Homo sapiens: one gene and its partners. The protein of the gene in region 2 purifies or fractionates together with the protein of the main gene of each other region. This does not show direct contact. Each region holds a gene or a part of one and is shown on either strand. Other genes may lie near its edges.

What was found.
Region 1: the proteins of PUS7 (region 2) and NSUN2 fractionate together in Homo sapiens (co-fractionation; one large-scale study listed by BioGRID). This does not show direct contact.
Region 3: the proteins of PUS7 (region 2) and EIF4G3 fractionate together in Homo sapiens (co-fractionation; one large-scale study listed by BioGRID). This does not show direct contact.
Region 4: the proteins of PUS7 (region 2) and PEX1 purify together in Homo sapiens (affinity purification with mass spectrometry; one large-scale study listed by BioGRID and IntAct). This does not show direct contact.

What each region holds. Positions count from the first base shown.
Region 1 is NC_000005.10:6,619,545-6,623,044, forward strand, and holds part of NSUN2 (RNA cytosine C(5)-methyltransferase NSUN2), read right to left. Parts: intron 2,557-3,500; coding exon 2,472-2,556; intron 755-2,471; coding exon 562-754; intron 1-561. UniProt on the Homo sapiens protein: RNA cytosine C(5)-methyltransferase that methylates cytosine to 5-methylcytosine (m5C) in various RNAs, such as tRNAs, mRNAs and some long non-coding RNAs (lncRNAs).
Region 2 is NC_000007.14:105,504,622-105,509,781, forward strand, and holds part of PUS7 (pseudouridylate synthase 7 homolog), read right to left. Parts: intron 3,924-5,160; 5' UTR 3,892-3,923; coding exon 3,494-3,891; intron 1,653-3,493; coding exon 1,568-1,652; intron 1,436-1,567; coding exon 1,334-1,435; intron 1-1,333. UniProt on the Homo sapiens protein: Pseudouridylate synthase that catalyzes pseudouridylation of RNAs.
Region 3 is NC_000001.11:20,858,898-20,862,397, forward strand, and holds part of EIF4G3 (eukaryotic translation initiation factor 4 gamma 3), read right to left. Parts: intron 3,436-3,500; coding exon 3,331-3,435; intron 1,621-3,330; coding exon 1,488-1,620; intron 1-1,487. UniProt on the Homo sapiens protein: Component of the protein complex eIF4F, which is involved in the recognition of the mRNA cap, ATP-dependent unwinding of 5'-terminal secondary structure and recruitment of mRNA to the ribosome. Functional homolog of EIF4G1.
Region 4 is NC_000007.14:92,490,521-92,494,020, forward strand, and holds part of PEX1 (peroxisomal ATPase PEX1), read right to left. Parts: exon of another isoform or gene 2,610-3,500; coding exon 2,433-2,609; exon of another isoform or gene 983-2,432; coding exon 752-982; exon of another isoform or gene 723-751; intron 1-722. UniProt on the Homo sapiens protein: Component of the PEX1-PEX6 AAA ATPase complex, a protein dislocase complex that mediates the ATP-dependent extraction of the PEX5 receptor from peroxisomal membranes, an essential step for PEX5 recycling.

The DNA.
Region 1 (3,500 bases), on a different chromosome or scaffold from region 2:
AGTATTATTTTATATCTAAACTCTAAATATCTAAAATGTTGATGTATTATCTCAAGAAAGGTATAAAAACACAAGCAAAATGAATTTCTTAAGGGCTTGAACTCCGAAATTTCTTTCATTCAACTAAATAACATAAAATCCAATGTGATTACGTATTATTTTATGACAAAGTTTTTTATATACTGTACTCACTGGAAGAACTAATACAAAATAGTTGGGGTGCACAAATTGTTCCAAGCAATAACATCCTAAAACACACCACAATAAGAGTCTACGATTCTATTTTCCTCTTACGTATTTTCTCTGTTTTGTTTTGTTTTCTCTTTATCTTTCTGCAGGCTATTGCAACCACCCCTTTCTGTTCTTTATCCAGCATCTGCTGTGCTGCTTCTCATTAAGACGTATCTACGTGTCCATCTTTTGGTTTAGGCTCACGCTATCTTTCTCCGCACCCCAAGACTTATGTACAATTGTGTCATATTCATGCACAACTTCATTTTAGTCTCTATTTGACTTGATTTCTTTAGTGGATTTGGGCTTTTTGGCCAATAAGATAAATACCTGCAAGGGACATCACATAAAATTCGATCATAGAAGAGGATCTCTTTCCTGCCGTCCACATCTATCTGGAGCCTGGGTATGCTGGAGGCATCATGGTTGACCACCATGATGCAGGGGCTGCTCAGCCTCTTGGCTTGATGGACGAGCAGGTAGCAGCGCTTGTTGTCCACATCATTCGCAATAACAAATCCCTCTGAAGGCACAGAATTGCAGTGTCAGGTGAAATGGAGCCTAAGTGGAATCACATCCTGAAATATGCGACCTCCAAAGGTCAGCCAGTGAGAAGCAGCAATCCACCAAACTTAAGACCCACAGTCAAGGTTTTCCAGAATTACGTTAAGTGGTTCAAAAAAAGGAACCAGGTGGCTCTGGATGGATTTTATGGACACTCGAATTTTGAAAGCCTCAAAAGTCATCTATTCAACAATTATTCACTTTGTGCCAATTACCATGCCAAAAATGTCTTTTCTGTTATTAGTAACGATTAACTACAAAAAAAAAAGATGAGGAGAAAGGTGTAGAAACAACAAAATCACCTTACAAATGTTTCAAAATCCTGAACACAAGCCGGGACCCTGCTCTGACTGTGAGTCAGGCTCCTAGGGTGGGGCCCCAAGCACCTGAACACGGAAGCTCTTCCCGGGAGGCTCTGCAGGCTGGGAAGTCTACTGGGTGTACCTCTGCTCATCTCTGGTTCTTCTCACACCCCCAGCAAAAAGGCAAATATACCAACAACATGTATGATCAAAGCCACTCTTCACAACAGTATGAAATGCAAAACATCCACAATACAAAAAGGAGAACCTGCTGCTACTGGGACGCCAAGGCTCTTTACTGCCAATGTGGAGAAAACAACTAAAAACAGGGAAAAGTGAAGCAGGCTTTTTAGCCAAGGCATTATCTTTAAACAATGTAAAAAAGAGGATTTCAAAAAACAGACCTAACAAATATGCCTATTAAAACAGAACTAGAGAAGTTTGCCTGAACAAAGATAGGACGAGATGAAAGCTGACTCTAAAACATCACGATGGGTATTTGTTTCCACTTAAGAGAAAGGGGCGTGGTGTCACTATAACAGCTAACATTTCCTGAGCACCTCGCAAGCTACATACTGATTCGTCCCATTTCACATGGGATGTCTAACACTGTAAGTAACTTGCCGATTAGGATTTGAACCCAGGGAGTCTGATGGTAGCTTTTAACTACACACTACTACCCTTCATGTAAGGCAGTAAGTAATAATAATAATAATAATAGTAATAATAATGAACAAAGGTGGGGGAAAGGGGAAATTGTTACTAAAAATTCAAACAGTGAAATCTATCTTCTGTAAGTAGGCTTGATAAAGAAACACCATCTGCAGCCGGGCGTGGTGGCTCACACCTGTAATCCCAGCACTTTGGGAGGCCAAGGCGGGCGGATCACGAGGTCAGGAGATCGAGACCATCCTGGCTAACATGGTGAAACCCCGTCTCTACTAAAAATACAAAAAATTACCCGGGCATGGTGGCGGGCACCTGTAGTCCCAGCTACTCGAGAGGCTGAGGCAGGAGAATGGCGTGAACCCAGGAGGTGGAACTTGCAGTGAGCCAACATCACGCCACTGCACTCCAGCCTGGGCAACAGAGTGAGACTCCATCTCAAAAAAAAAAAAAAGAAATGCCATTCGTTTTTATAGAAAACACACATAATTCTAAAATAAAGCTCCCCCATGGTATGAGTGTGTTTGTTTGAGTACTACTGACGGTGGTAGGCAAGATGTCCAGTTCTACTTCCGGTAGACGGAAAACCCAACTGCTTGTCATAGGAGACTTTAGAGCCAAATTAGCAGGCAAAGTTAGAGTCTTTTCCTTGTCTACAATCTGCCAAAGTGGCATTCCTACCATTTTGAACACAAGTCCAATGCATACCTGGAAAGGGGACATTCATGTCGGCATGTAGCATTTCAATTAACTGTGTGGTCTTTGAGCCAGGTGCTGCACACATATCTAAGATCTATTAACAAAGCAAGAAACTGTTTCATGTTTTTAAAAAACCAAATATTCTACATTTAATTTAAAGCAATTCTAGTTTTTCAATTTCTAGTCCAAGATCTAAATATACTTCTTTACAGAGTCTATAGCATGACATAATTTACTTTTAGGGATTCTACACTGCCCCAAAATCACAGAATGATATAGGTACAGTCTCCAAAGAGGATGGGAGGAGAATGAAACTGTAAGCCAGAGAGACTAAATATAGAGATGAACAAGTAAGAATCATGAAAACATAATGCTAAGGAACAGAGCTACCTAGACTCAAATCTCAGCTCAGCCAGTTAACAGCTCCGTAACCTCAGTTCAAGTACTTCTCCTTGCTTCCTTTTCCTCATCTGGAAAAATGGAGATGGTGACAGTATCTGCCCTTAGAGGGTTGTGTGAATGATAAAGCCAACTAATTCACCTAAAAAACACAGAGCAAGGCCAGGCACAGTGGCTCACACCTGTAATCCCAGCACTTTGGAAGGCCAAGGCAGGCGGATCGCCTGAGGTCGGGAGTTCGAGACCAGCCTGACCAACATGGAGAAACCCCGTCTCTACTAAAAATACAAAATTAGCAGGGTGTGGTGGTGCGCACCTGTAATCCCGGCTACTTGGGAGACTGAGGCAGGAGAATTGCCTGAACTCAGGAGGCGGAGGTTGCAGTGAGCCAAGATCGCGCCACTGCACTCCAGCCTGGACAACAAGAGTGAAACTCCATCTCAAAAAAAAAAAAAAGAAAAGAAAAAAGAGCACAGAGTAATGCTTGCCATACAATGAGCTCTCAATACATGTTCACTATCATTTTCAACCTAATTTAGCCAATCACCATCACTGAAGACAATCCATATGGTAAACAAATCAGTAAAACTAAAGGGGAGAAAATTTTCTAAACCATAAAAATTAAGTAGGACAAAAAAG
Region 2 (5,160 bases):
GAAAACCTCAGTTTTTAAGACAATAGTAAATTTTACCACATGTATACGAAAATACATATTATAAGCCTAAGATAAACCTCTGCATTGTACAAGCAAAGGAAACTTGGACCATCCTTCTGGATTGCTCTAGAAATCTGCCAGGAATTTTCCTCTTGGCATTGCTAAAGGTTTTGTCTAAAGATTTTTTCAGTAATGGAAGATTTCTAACATTGCAATACCACACGCTTTTGGGAAGCTCAGGTAAGGAGGGAGACAAGGAGCAGATAATGAATTCTGAAAAGTTGTAGTACGCTTATTAACTAGGAGTGCTGGGAGGGGGAATTTCAGACAACCGAAAACCCCATAGCTCATTAAAATGTAGTACAAAATTAATTTAACATAATTTTTTTTTTTTTTTGATATGGAGTCTCGCTCTGCCGCCCAGGCTGGAGTGCAGTGGTATGATCTCTGCTCGCTGCAACCTCTGTCTCCTAGGTTCAAGAGATTCTCTTGCCTCAGCCTCCCAAGTAGCTGGGACTACAGGCCTGCGCTACCACGCTTGGCTAATTTTTTTGTATTTTTAGTAGAGACGGGATTTCGCCATGTTGGCCAGGCTGGTCTTGAACTCCTGACCTCAAGTGATCCGCCCACCTTGGCCTCCCAAAGTGCTGGGATTACAGGTGTGAGCCACCGTGCCCGGCGAACAAAAGCTTTAACAACAAAATTTACTATTCTACTTAGTAGCTGAGCTCTCCTTTTCTTCAATAGCAGAATTGACCCACGATGAGCAAATAAATGCTCCCCTACTTCCTTTCCCCATTTCCTCCCCTTCCCAGAGTCCCAACTGAGGCCAAGAAGCTGCTGAAGCCAGAATCTGACCTGGGTCACATACCTGACAGACAGCAAATGGTGGTCCTGTTACAACGGACATTGTGGTATAATTGGTACTCTGGGATTCTAAACAACATATGTCGCTGTTCATTTGTGGTCCCTAAATTTTTTTTTCAGAGATGATGTCTCACTATGTTGTCCAGGCTAGTCTCCAATTCCTGGGCTCAAGTAAACCTCTGGCTTCAGCCTTCGGAGTAGCTAGGACTTTGGAATAGCATGTAACACTGTACCCAAATAAAAATGTTTTTAAACAAAAATGTAACTTTGGGGGGGGCTATAGTTTATCTGGGATACTAGTTATCTGCCCCAGTAAAAAAATTTTTTAGTGTAATATCCTTTAGATCCAATAGAGCAAAAAGTCACCCTTTGTTAACCATTGTAATTTTTTCCATAAACACTTAACATCCACCCAAAAAGCAACTAAAACCCTAAATAATTTTTCATATATTTTTGCATTAGTTACCTCAATGGCAACACTGGTTTCCTTATTTTTGAACAGCTGGAGCTCTTCCAATCGCTGCTTTTCTTCAGCTGTCAAAACTGTAAATATGTCTTCTGAAGGGTCCTTTAAAATAACCATGAGAACTCACAATGAATCATACATAGAATTCAAGTTTAATAAAGCTCTATATTTCTAAATCTCTAGGAAATGCTATTTTTATACAGAAGGTGACATTTGCTAAAGAGCTACTTCTACCTCCTCATCCACTGGAATGGACAAGTCATTCAAATGGCTGATCCGTCCATCTTTTCCTATTTCATGAACAACGAAGTCGGAGTATCTGATGAAAGAAAACATGAACTTTCAGATAATTAACATCCTGTTTTCTATTAATTTTAAGATAAAGTTGATCAACAGCAAGCCTTACTATTATGCAAAACAAGGAATTTTAAAAAATCTTCAGTGCAAAATCACATGGAGTTAATTTTTTTTTTCTTTTTTTTTTTTGAGATGGAGCCTTGCTCTGTTGCCTAGGCTGGAGTGCAGTGGCTCGATCTCCACTCACTGCAACCTCCGCCTCCTGGGTCCAAGTGATTCTCCCGCCTCAGCCTCCCGAGTAGCTGGGATTACAGGCACGTGCCACCACGCCCAGCTAATTTTTGTATTTTTAGTAGAGACGGGGTTGCACCATTTTGGCCAGGCTGATCTTGAACTCCTGACCTCAAGTGATCTGCCCATCTTGGCCTCCCAAAGTGCTGGGATTACAGGCGTGAATCACCACATCCGGTCTTTTCTGGTTTCTTAATGAATGCTGAGCCATACCTTGGCTCAAGTTTTATATGAGAACTTAAAGAAAAGACCCTCTTAGCTTCTAGAATATTCTTCCAGAGAAATGCAAAAACAAAAGCTTATTAACATTACCCTATGACGATTCAGGCAGCCCACACTAAATTAAATCACAAAATATGCTATATGGTTAATTGAATCAGAACCCAGTAAGTCTACCATGAACTAGCCTGAAGCTTACCTTTATGTTAAATATTTTACATGCATTATTCAAAATCCTCAACAACCCCAATGTGGTAATATGATCCATTTAAAAATTTTATTTTATTACTATTATTTTTTTTGAGACAGAGTCTTGCTCTGTTGCCCAGGCTGGAGTGCAGTGGCTTGATCTTGGCTCACTGCAACCTCCGCCTCCTGGGTTCAAGTGATTCTCCTGCCTCAGCCTACCGAGTAGCTGGGATTACAGGCGCGTGCCACTACGCCAGGCTAATTTTTGTATTATTAGTAGAGACAGGGTTTCGCCATGTTGCCCAGGCTGGTCTCAAACTCCTGACCTCAAGTGATCTGCCCGCCTTGGCCTCCCAAAGTGCTGGGATCACAGGCGTTAGCCACCGTGTCTGGCCTGATCCATTTTTTAAATAAGGATGCTGAGGTTCAGAGAGGCTAAGTAACTACTAAGTAGCGAACTTCACACTGGGATCCACCTGGCTCCAAAGACTACCTTCTTCTAACATAGTTGTGGCACATTCAAATGAAAAAAGAGTTTAAGATTATAAAACAAACTCAGGAGAAAATCTGAAACCATTTAAATGAATTTATTCATTTACTTATTTTTTTGAGACAGAGTCTTGCTCTGTCACCCAGGCTGGAATGCAGTGGTGCAATCTCGGCTCACTGCAACCTCCACCTCCCAGGTTCAAGCTATTCTCCTGCCTCAGCCTCCCGAGTAGCTGGGATTACAGGTGCCCATCACCACGCCCAGCTAATTTTTGTATTTTTAGTATAGATGTGCTTTCACCATGTTGGCCAGGCTGGTCTCAAACTCCTGACCTCAAGTGATCCGCCAGCCTCGGCCTCCCAAAGTGCTGGGATAACAGGCGTAAGCCACTGTGCCTGGTGAATGAATTTATTTGAGGCATGATCATGCCACTGCATGCCAGCCTGGGTGACAGAGTGAGACCCTCTCTCAAAAAAAGGGAAAAAATTAATTAATTAAAATTTAAAAATCCAAGGCTATTTATTCAGGCAGGTTTCCTTCATCCTATTCCTTTTGATCAGTAGTATAAACAAGCCTTGGAGATGGAAAGCTAAGTGGAAGAATATAAAGCTAATTTCTTTCTAAAGAAGAAACCTAATACAATCAAAATAACTTTATTCATAAACTAAATGTACCTTTCTTTTAAGATTCCCGAGAACCCTTGATGAGAACTCACAAACTTGGTGATGCCTACGTCAGCCTCAGTGAGTCCATGCTTCATCATGTCTGCAAAACTCTCTGATTCCTCCTCCTCGCACTCCTCTGAAAGTCCATCTTCCTCCTCTTCTTCCTCATCTTCCAACTGAGCCTCAGAATTCTTTCCACCTTTCCCAGTACTGACAGTGTCAGGAGGCCGAGGCACGTCTTCACTGATGGACAGAAAGTCATTCTGTAGCCCATCTTGACCTTTGGTTAGACTGCATTCCGACAGCTTCTGTTTTTTTGTCTCTTCAACTGGGACTCCACTGTCATTATCTTCGACAACCAGTGCCCCACGTTTCAGCGACACACCAGTCATTTCTGTCATCTCCATCTTTAAGGCTCCAAGAAAACATTTAAGAAAACCTGTTAGGAAAGAGTAGAAAGTAACAATCACCTATATAAAAGCTGGTTTCAGGCCGGGCGCGGTGGCTCACACCTGTAATCCCAGCGTTTTGAGGGAGGTTAAGGCAGGCAGATCACTTGAGGTCAGGAGTTCAAGACCAGCCTGGCCAACATGGTGAAACCTCATCTCTACTAAATATTAGTTAGGCGTGGGTGGCAGGCGCCTATAGTCCCAGCTCTTGGGAGGCTGAGGCAGGGGCATTGCTTGAACCCGGGAGGCAGAGGTTGCAGTGAGTTAAGATAGTGCCACTGCACTCCAGCCTGGGCGACAGAGTGAGACATTGTCTTAAAAAAAAAAAAAAAAAAAAAAAAAAAGGTCAGGCACGGTGGCTCACACCTGTAATCCCAGCACTTTGGGAGGCCGAGGTGGGCGGATCACAAGGTCAGGGGTTCGAGATCAGCCTGGCCAACATGGTGAAACCCCATCTCTACTAAAAATACAAAAAAAAAACTAGCTGGGCGTGGTGGTAGGCGCCTGTAATCCCAGCTAGTCAGGAGGCTGAGGCAGGAGAATCGCTTGAACCTGGGAGGCGGAGTTTGCAGTGAGCAGAGATCGAGCCACTGCACTCCAGCCTGGGGGACCAGAGCAAGACTCCATCTCAAAAAAAAAAAAAAAAAAAAAAAAAAAGGAAAGAAGTTGGTTTCAGCAGATAAAGGCATAGTTAATGTTGTTCATACGATCCTAAAAATCATTTATAGAAATAATTCTTCCAGATGTTGGCATACACTTTTTGTGGGACAGAAAACCGGCATAATACTTCCGCACATCATCACAAGCCTTAAAAATATGTATGCTCTTTGACCCAGTAATACTACTTTTAGGGATTTATCTTAAGAAAATAATTAAGAAATAATAAAGTTTTAGCTCTAAGGATATTCATCTCCATACTTTTTTCTTTTTTTCAGTGACAAGGTCTGGCTCTTTCACCCAGTCTGGTGTGCAGTGGCATGATCACAGCTCACTGCAAACTCCAACTCCTGGGCTCAAGCAATCCTCCTGCCTCAGCCTCCCCAGCAGCTGGGACTACAGCAGCATGCCACCAAGCCTGGCTAGTTTTTTTATTTTTATTTTTCTGTAAAGACTAGGTCTCGCTATTATTGCTCAGTCTGGTCTTGAACTCCTGGGCTCAAGTAATGCTCTCACTTTGGCTTCCCAAAGTGTTGGGAATATAGGTGTGAGCCACCCTGCCTGGCCACA
Region 3 (3,500 bases), on a different chromosome or scaffold from region 2:
GAGGCAGAGAACTGCTTGAATCCGGGAGGCGGAGGTTGCAGTGAGCCGAGATCGCGCTACTGCACTCCAGCCTGGGCGACAGAGCGAGACTCATCTCAAAAAAAAATACTTGCTGAATGAATTAATAAATTGAAAGATCACCGAACTGTCTATCCAAAAGCTTTTCTGGTCCTAACATAACGTCTTGATTTTCTCCGTGCTATCTGATATTACTGATCATAAACAGACTTGCTTCTTCCTTGTCTCTATGACACTTGTATCTTAGTCCTTTCTCTCCACTTGTCTGGCACTTTTCCAAGAGTTCTTTTCTTCCTTTAGTCATATGTGAATATCCTCCATGAATTAGGCTTTGGTATCTTCTCCTTTTCCCTCTCAATCTGGTTCAATAATAAATAAAAGTTATTACCCAAAAGGCACTGCACTAGGTACTAGAGCGAGGAAGGTAAGTGTGGTATCTCAAGAAACTTAAAAGTAAACTTTCTTCCATGCAGAATTCATCTCTCCTAACAACTTCACTATGAGCTCTACTGTGTCTGTGACAATAACTAATGGTTACTGAGTATTTACTATCAGCCAGAAAATTATCATTTCCCTCTGAAAAAGGTTTTCTTTTCCAACGTTCCTAAACTTAGTAAATGGACTATCGTCTCAGGTTTAAAATGCCTTCTACTTCATCTTTCACTTTTTTTGCATGTCTCTATTTTTGTTTTGTTTTGTTTTGAGATGTAGTCTCACTCTGTTCCCCAGGCTGGAGTGCAGTGGCGCGATCGCGGCTCACCGCAACCTCCACCTCCCAGGTTCAAGTGATTCTTCTGCCTCAACCTCCTGAATAGCTGGGACTACAGGCACACATCACTATGTCCAGCAAATTTTTTAGTAGAGACGGGGTTTCATCATGTTGGTCAGGCTGGTCTCAAACTCCTGACCTCAATTGATCCACCCACCTCAGCCTCCCGAAGTGCTGGGATTACAGGCATGAGCCACTGCGTCCGGCCTGCTACAAAGTGCCCCTTTCTTAAATAAAGTTTTCTTTCAGCTTTCTGTCTCTCTTCTTTTTCTCTAAATTTTAACAGTTAATGGAGAACACATTTCATAATTGATATACTATCTTCCATTTGCTTAACAAATGTTCCTCTTTTGCTTGTCAAAAGTTTTACCTTACCAGATAAACTGTACACTTTGAGAGGGAAGTAACTACATTTTCCACTTCCTTTTCTCGTCTCACCAATTCTGAGTATATAGAAGATGCTCAATAAAGTCTTATTGCTTACTGGCTTTTAAGTAGTGAAAGAAATCATGCTTTGTTCCTGCATTCTCTACTTTTACTCAGTAACTTTACTCTTCAGGTGAAACTGCTTCACCTAACAATCACCACTCTATTCTTTGGGCTGTTCTTTCTGATCTCATTTTATACCTAAATACATAATTCTTAATATGTATTCCTGAAACTTCCAAGTTCTCTAAACCCTGGTGGATTCCGGCCTCACCTGGTCTTCTCTTCTCTTTGGTCATGAGTTGCTGGACCTTCCTTTGCTCTTCTTGTTCTTCTATTTTAGCCTCTTTGTGAATCTGTTCGATAGTTTTAGGCCCTTGATCTGCTCTTCGAGATACCCAATTGCACTATAAAAGCAGAAAATAAGGTTATCTGCCAGATAAACTGAACATTTTTTAAAATTTAAAAATTAGCAATTTTTACTACTGGAAAAGTACAAAATACCTACAAAAGCTGTATTATGGCAGTTTCTCATGTATCTTATAGATGACACTATGAGCAGTTTAGGATTAGAGCTGAAGGATTAAAATCTTCTCAGTCAAAACTGGCCAATTGTATACTACATATTCCAATAGCCAATGGATACAAAGAACAGGGTGAAAGACTGGCCCAAATTTATTATTATATTTTTAAGCATGGCATATATTTCTCTGTGGACTAAATGGATTTTATCTGTATCAGTATTTTGTACATTTGAAAGGAGGAGAGAAAAATAAAAATGATGAGGATTCCTTGGCCTTGCCTTAATCTGTGGGATTACTACTCAGATCATATCACATTCCATAGGGGTTCTAAGTCAAGGATGACTCATGCTTTTATTTCTCCAATATCATGGTTCTGATATTCTACACAAAGGTCCATACCACTCTGCCCTTTGGTTATCCCCTGTATTAAGGACAAAATAAGTTGTCACTTTATACTTCTCCCTTCTCTTTCTAGCAACAGTCCCAACATCTGATATAAGTGGTTGATAACATGGGTGAAGACAACCACATCTAGTCTTAGCAAGATAAAGAATCATCATCAATGCTATCTGGCCTGGGTGGAGGAGAAATAAGAGGTAGGGCTTTGTTCACTTTCTCTAGTGTAGGGCTTGATGTAGTATATTCCCTGTAGGAGTGAAACTTACAAAAGAGTAACTCCCTGTAGGAGTTAAACTTAAAACAGAGAAAAGTAGTAGTAACAAAAACTGCACCCGGTAAGAGAAATGAGAAAAACAAAAAAACAAAAAAACAAAAAAAACCCAGCAGCAGAATAGGAGGGTCACAGGAAAAACGAAAGAGAAGAAAACACCAATATCTGAGCTGGGCACCTTACGTAATTATTCCATTGACTCTTCAACAAATCTGCAAGGTAGGCAACATCCTCATTTTAGAGATTAAAAATGTAAGGCTCAGAGAGTTAAAGGTATTTACTGTGGAGATGAGACTTGCTGATTATTTAGCTCACAAAGACTAAATTTAATTGAATTTACATTTGAATGGAGTTTGAATTCAGAATGGCTGATTACAAATTGCAAGTGGCTGGGCGTGGTGGCTCACGCCTGTAATCCCAGCACTTTGGGAGGCTGAGGTGGGCAGATCATTTGAGGTCAGGAGTTCCAGACCAGCCTGGCCAACAGCGTGAAATCCTGTCTCTACTAAAAATACAAAAATTGCCCAGGTGTGGGGGCATGTGCCTGTAATCCCAGCTATTCCAGAGGCTGAGGCAGAAGAATCATCTGAACCTGGGAGGCGGAGGCTGCAGTGAGCCGAGATTGAGCCACTGCACTCCAGCCTGGGCGACAGAGTGAGACTCTATCTCAAAAAAAAAAACAAAGCGCAAACAAAATTGCAATATGGTTTGATAATCAGAATAAGGAGAAGAAGCACGTAACTGGCAATAGGCCTTTTGTCCCTTCTCAGAACTCTCCCACGGAAAGTTTGCCAATCCAAATTCTGAGTCCTGAAGCAAAAGCACTATCTTTACACATGTAAACAACAGGACATCCTTCCCCAACCCAATTCCTTTAAAGAGACTGGACCAGCAGGCTTATTATTATTTTTTTTCCCACTCACCAGCCTTAGGTCTATAACATCTTGAAGCATGAACCGAATCCTAGATGAGGTTTTTCTTTCTTTCACAATTTTCTCCATCTGATTAAAGTACTGGTCCATACGTGGCTGCAAGAGACAAAATCATTAGTACTCCTGTCTGAGAAACTTAAACGTAATTTTACCAATTTACA
Region 4 (3,500 bases), about 13 Mb from region 2:
GCTACTCAGGAGGCTGAGGTGGAAGAATCACCTAAGCCCAGGAGGTCAAGGCTGCAGTGAGCCATAATTGTGCCACTGCACTCTAGTCTGGATGATAGAGTGAGACTGTCTCAAAAAAAAAAAAAAAAAAAAGCCTAAATTAATAAAGCAAATGTACAAAAAACCAGGAAACATATAGATAACCAAACACATGTACAGATGTTACATGTACCAATAAAATTACAGTGAACCACTATTAATTTTTAGAAGAGATGTTGAATGCTAGTAGAACAGTGATACTGCCCACATTTAATCAAAACACTTTCCTGTTGAAACATTATCAGTACACTTCATTGTGCTTACTATGCAGCAAAAGTATCACAGATAACACTTTGTTTTCAGGAATTTCTTACATTATTGTATCAAATTATTCATTATCCTCAACTGTTCATGATAACAGAATTTAAGTTTACTATAAAATGGAACTGCTCCTAAAGATGTTTTAAAGCCACTAGGTAAGAGAAACCTCAAAGAAACCAAAGGTAATCACAACCACGCGCTACTTTGGTTCCTTGCTCCCAGCCCTGTCTTGAAAATCTTAACAAGGAATGCAAATTACCAATTAGTGTAAGCAAGAAACAAGACTATTTTACTGAAGAACCAACCAACCAGGAAGAATATGTGGGGCTGGTTAGGAGAGAAATCACTGCAACTTTACACCAACATATAGCTTTATATTTCAGAACTGTATAATGATGACTGCACAAGATACCAAATCAGAAGAGGTTCCATTTCCAAGTTCTGATTCATAAGAGCTTCCAAAGTAGAGCCGGTACATATTGAATTTTGATTCATCTGGAAGGATCTCGGACATCTCTAAAGAAACAAGGGACTGATCTAAGCCACATTCTCCATCTCCAGCTGAATCGTCAGAGCCACTGCTATGGTTAAGAAAGACCATTGAAGACAGACTTAGGTCACTATCAGAGCTGGAACTTCCATCCTAAAATACACAAAAGGACAACCAGTTTAAAGATGTAAACAATTTTAGTCTCAGAAATAAATAATAACATAGATAGCATTCTATTAGAGCAATACAAGAAACTTAGAAGCATTTTTCAAAGAGCTCATTAATTCTCTAACGGTTTTGAGGCACATGGTAAAAATTTAACTATTAAAATTATAAAGACAAGATAGAATGTGTAGATAATTTACCAACCATCCCCCAAGAAAGTCTGTAATGAAGCTAAGACTCAGACCTCTGGGCTTTATTTTTATGTCTCTGACTTTCCATTCATACTTTTCTACTCCAAAATGATGAATCAACCATGTTATAGAGTGCTTTCTCATTATAGAGAGCTCTACAAATACACACCTTTCTGGTAGTAAAGGGAGAGGGAAGAACTTCAATGGCTTGCCAAAATAGCAAAAACCTAGGGAGTTTCTGATTTAGAAACTGTAGGTTCTGTAGACATTCCAAACAAATGTGGTAAAGAAGAGTAATAGAATAATCCTTCCTAGAAAATATATGGTAAAGTCTATAATGTAACAGTTCAAATATCTACTGTAAATATTAAAATCATAATACTGTCTTTAGAGAAAAGGCTGATGCTAGGGCTGGGATACAGAAAGTACAAGATAAACCAAGAATATTTTTCTTTTTTGGGGGCAGGGTCTCATTCTGTCATCCATGCTGGAGTGCAGTGGCACAAGCATGGCTCACTGCATCCTGGATTTACTCAAGCGATCCTCCTGCCACAGCCTCTCCCAAGAAGCTAGGACTACAGGTATGTGCCACCATGCCCAGCTAATTTTTAAATTTTTCACAGAGACAAGATCCCACTCTGTTGTCCATAGTGGGTACAGTTTGTGCAACCATGATTTGGTCTCAAACTAGGCCCAAATGATCCTCCTGCCTTGGCCTGCCAAAGTGCTGGGATTACAGGCGTGAACCACTGCACCTGGCCAAGAATAACTTACTGTATCTGGAAGTGAGGAAGTGATTCAAGAATGATGAGGACATGTCATAAAGATACAGGAGCCATACAAAAGGGGCTCCTATTGGCCAGATTGGAACAATGTGAGCTTCAAAACAACAACTTTAACTGATTATTTTTTAAAAGTTAAAGTACAAACAAACAAAAAACTCTAATTATTTTTGTTTGTAGTATTTAATTCATGGTATCCCAATTTAAATAATATCCTTGCAAACACCAACATGTTTTTGCCAATATTAAGGTAATGTTAAAGAAACAGACATCAAACTTCATAATTATAAATTCTCTGCAAAACCCATATTCCAACTATGGAACATTCAACTAAAGGTAAATTTATGTTTCTATACAGTTTTACCAAAGTTGTTTAAAAAATAGCATTTTTTAAGGTGGAAATTTTGACATTGTACTTCTTTTATCACTCATAAAATGTCATAACAACTTCCTCATATAACTTGCCTGGAGTCCACTCGAGAGCAGCATTCCATGTAAGGCCTCCAATTGGGCATTGTAAAGTAAAGCTTTCAGATCAGCTCCAGTAAAGGAGTCAGTTACTGATGCTACATGCTGAAGGTCAACATCATCTGCCAGAGGTAGAGAGTCACTGAGGACATTTAAAATTTCAAGACGTGACACCTGAAAGGAGAAAAATTTATTTAACAAATAAAAAATAAAATTAAAAATATTATCTTAAATTGTGTATCTTATGATTTTCTTCATAAATTAACCTTATATATCTAAAAAGCTTTATAAGTAAGTTGAGAAATGTACCAACAGCCTACTATTTATCTTCCTTGGAATTTTTTCCCCAACAGAAATAATATATATAGGAAAATGAATGAAAATCAAACACTCTTAAGGCTGGGCATGGTGGCTCACGCCTGTAATCCCAACACTTTGGGAGGTTGAGGTGGGAGGATCACTTGAGCCCTGGAGTTCAAGAAAGCCTGGGCAACACAGGGAGACCCCATCTCTATACAAAAATTAATAATAAAATTATCTGGGCATGGTAGCGTGTGCCTGTGGTCCCAGCTACTCGGGAGGCTGAGGTGGGGAGATTGCTTGAGCCTGGGCCATAGAGGCTGCAGTGAGTTGTGATCGTACCAGTGTACTCCAGCCTGGGTGACAAAGTGAGACCTTGTCTGAAAAACAAAAACCCAAAAACCTACAAAATATTCAGTGTAAATAATTTCTTATTCACACAGTGCTTATTTTCTAGATTTAGGCAAGTGTGCCAAGAAGGTATTTCAAAAGGAAAATCTAAATAATTTAAATAATAGCTACATGTAACATATATACAGATACTTTATACCTTTGACTATTCATTTGTCTATCTGTTCTTTCATTCATTTATTTGTTTGCTTCTAAATTGGAGAATAAGAGTTGGAACAACACAGGACAAGGAAGAGTTGAAAAATTATCTCTATGAAACCTGCTTACATGCTTACGATTCACATGCTTGATTCTGTATCAGAGTTTTTTTTTTGACAGGATAATGGAAGTATGTAATCTTTGAACAGAAGATAA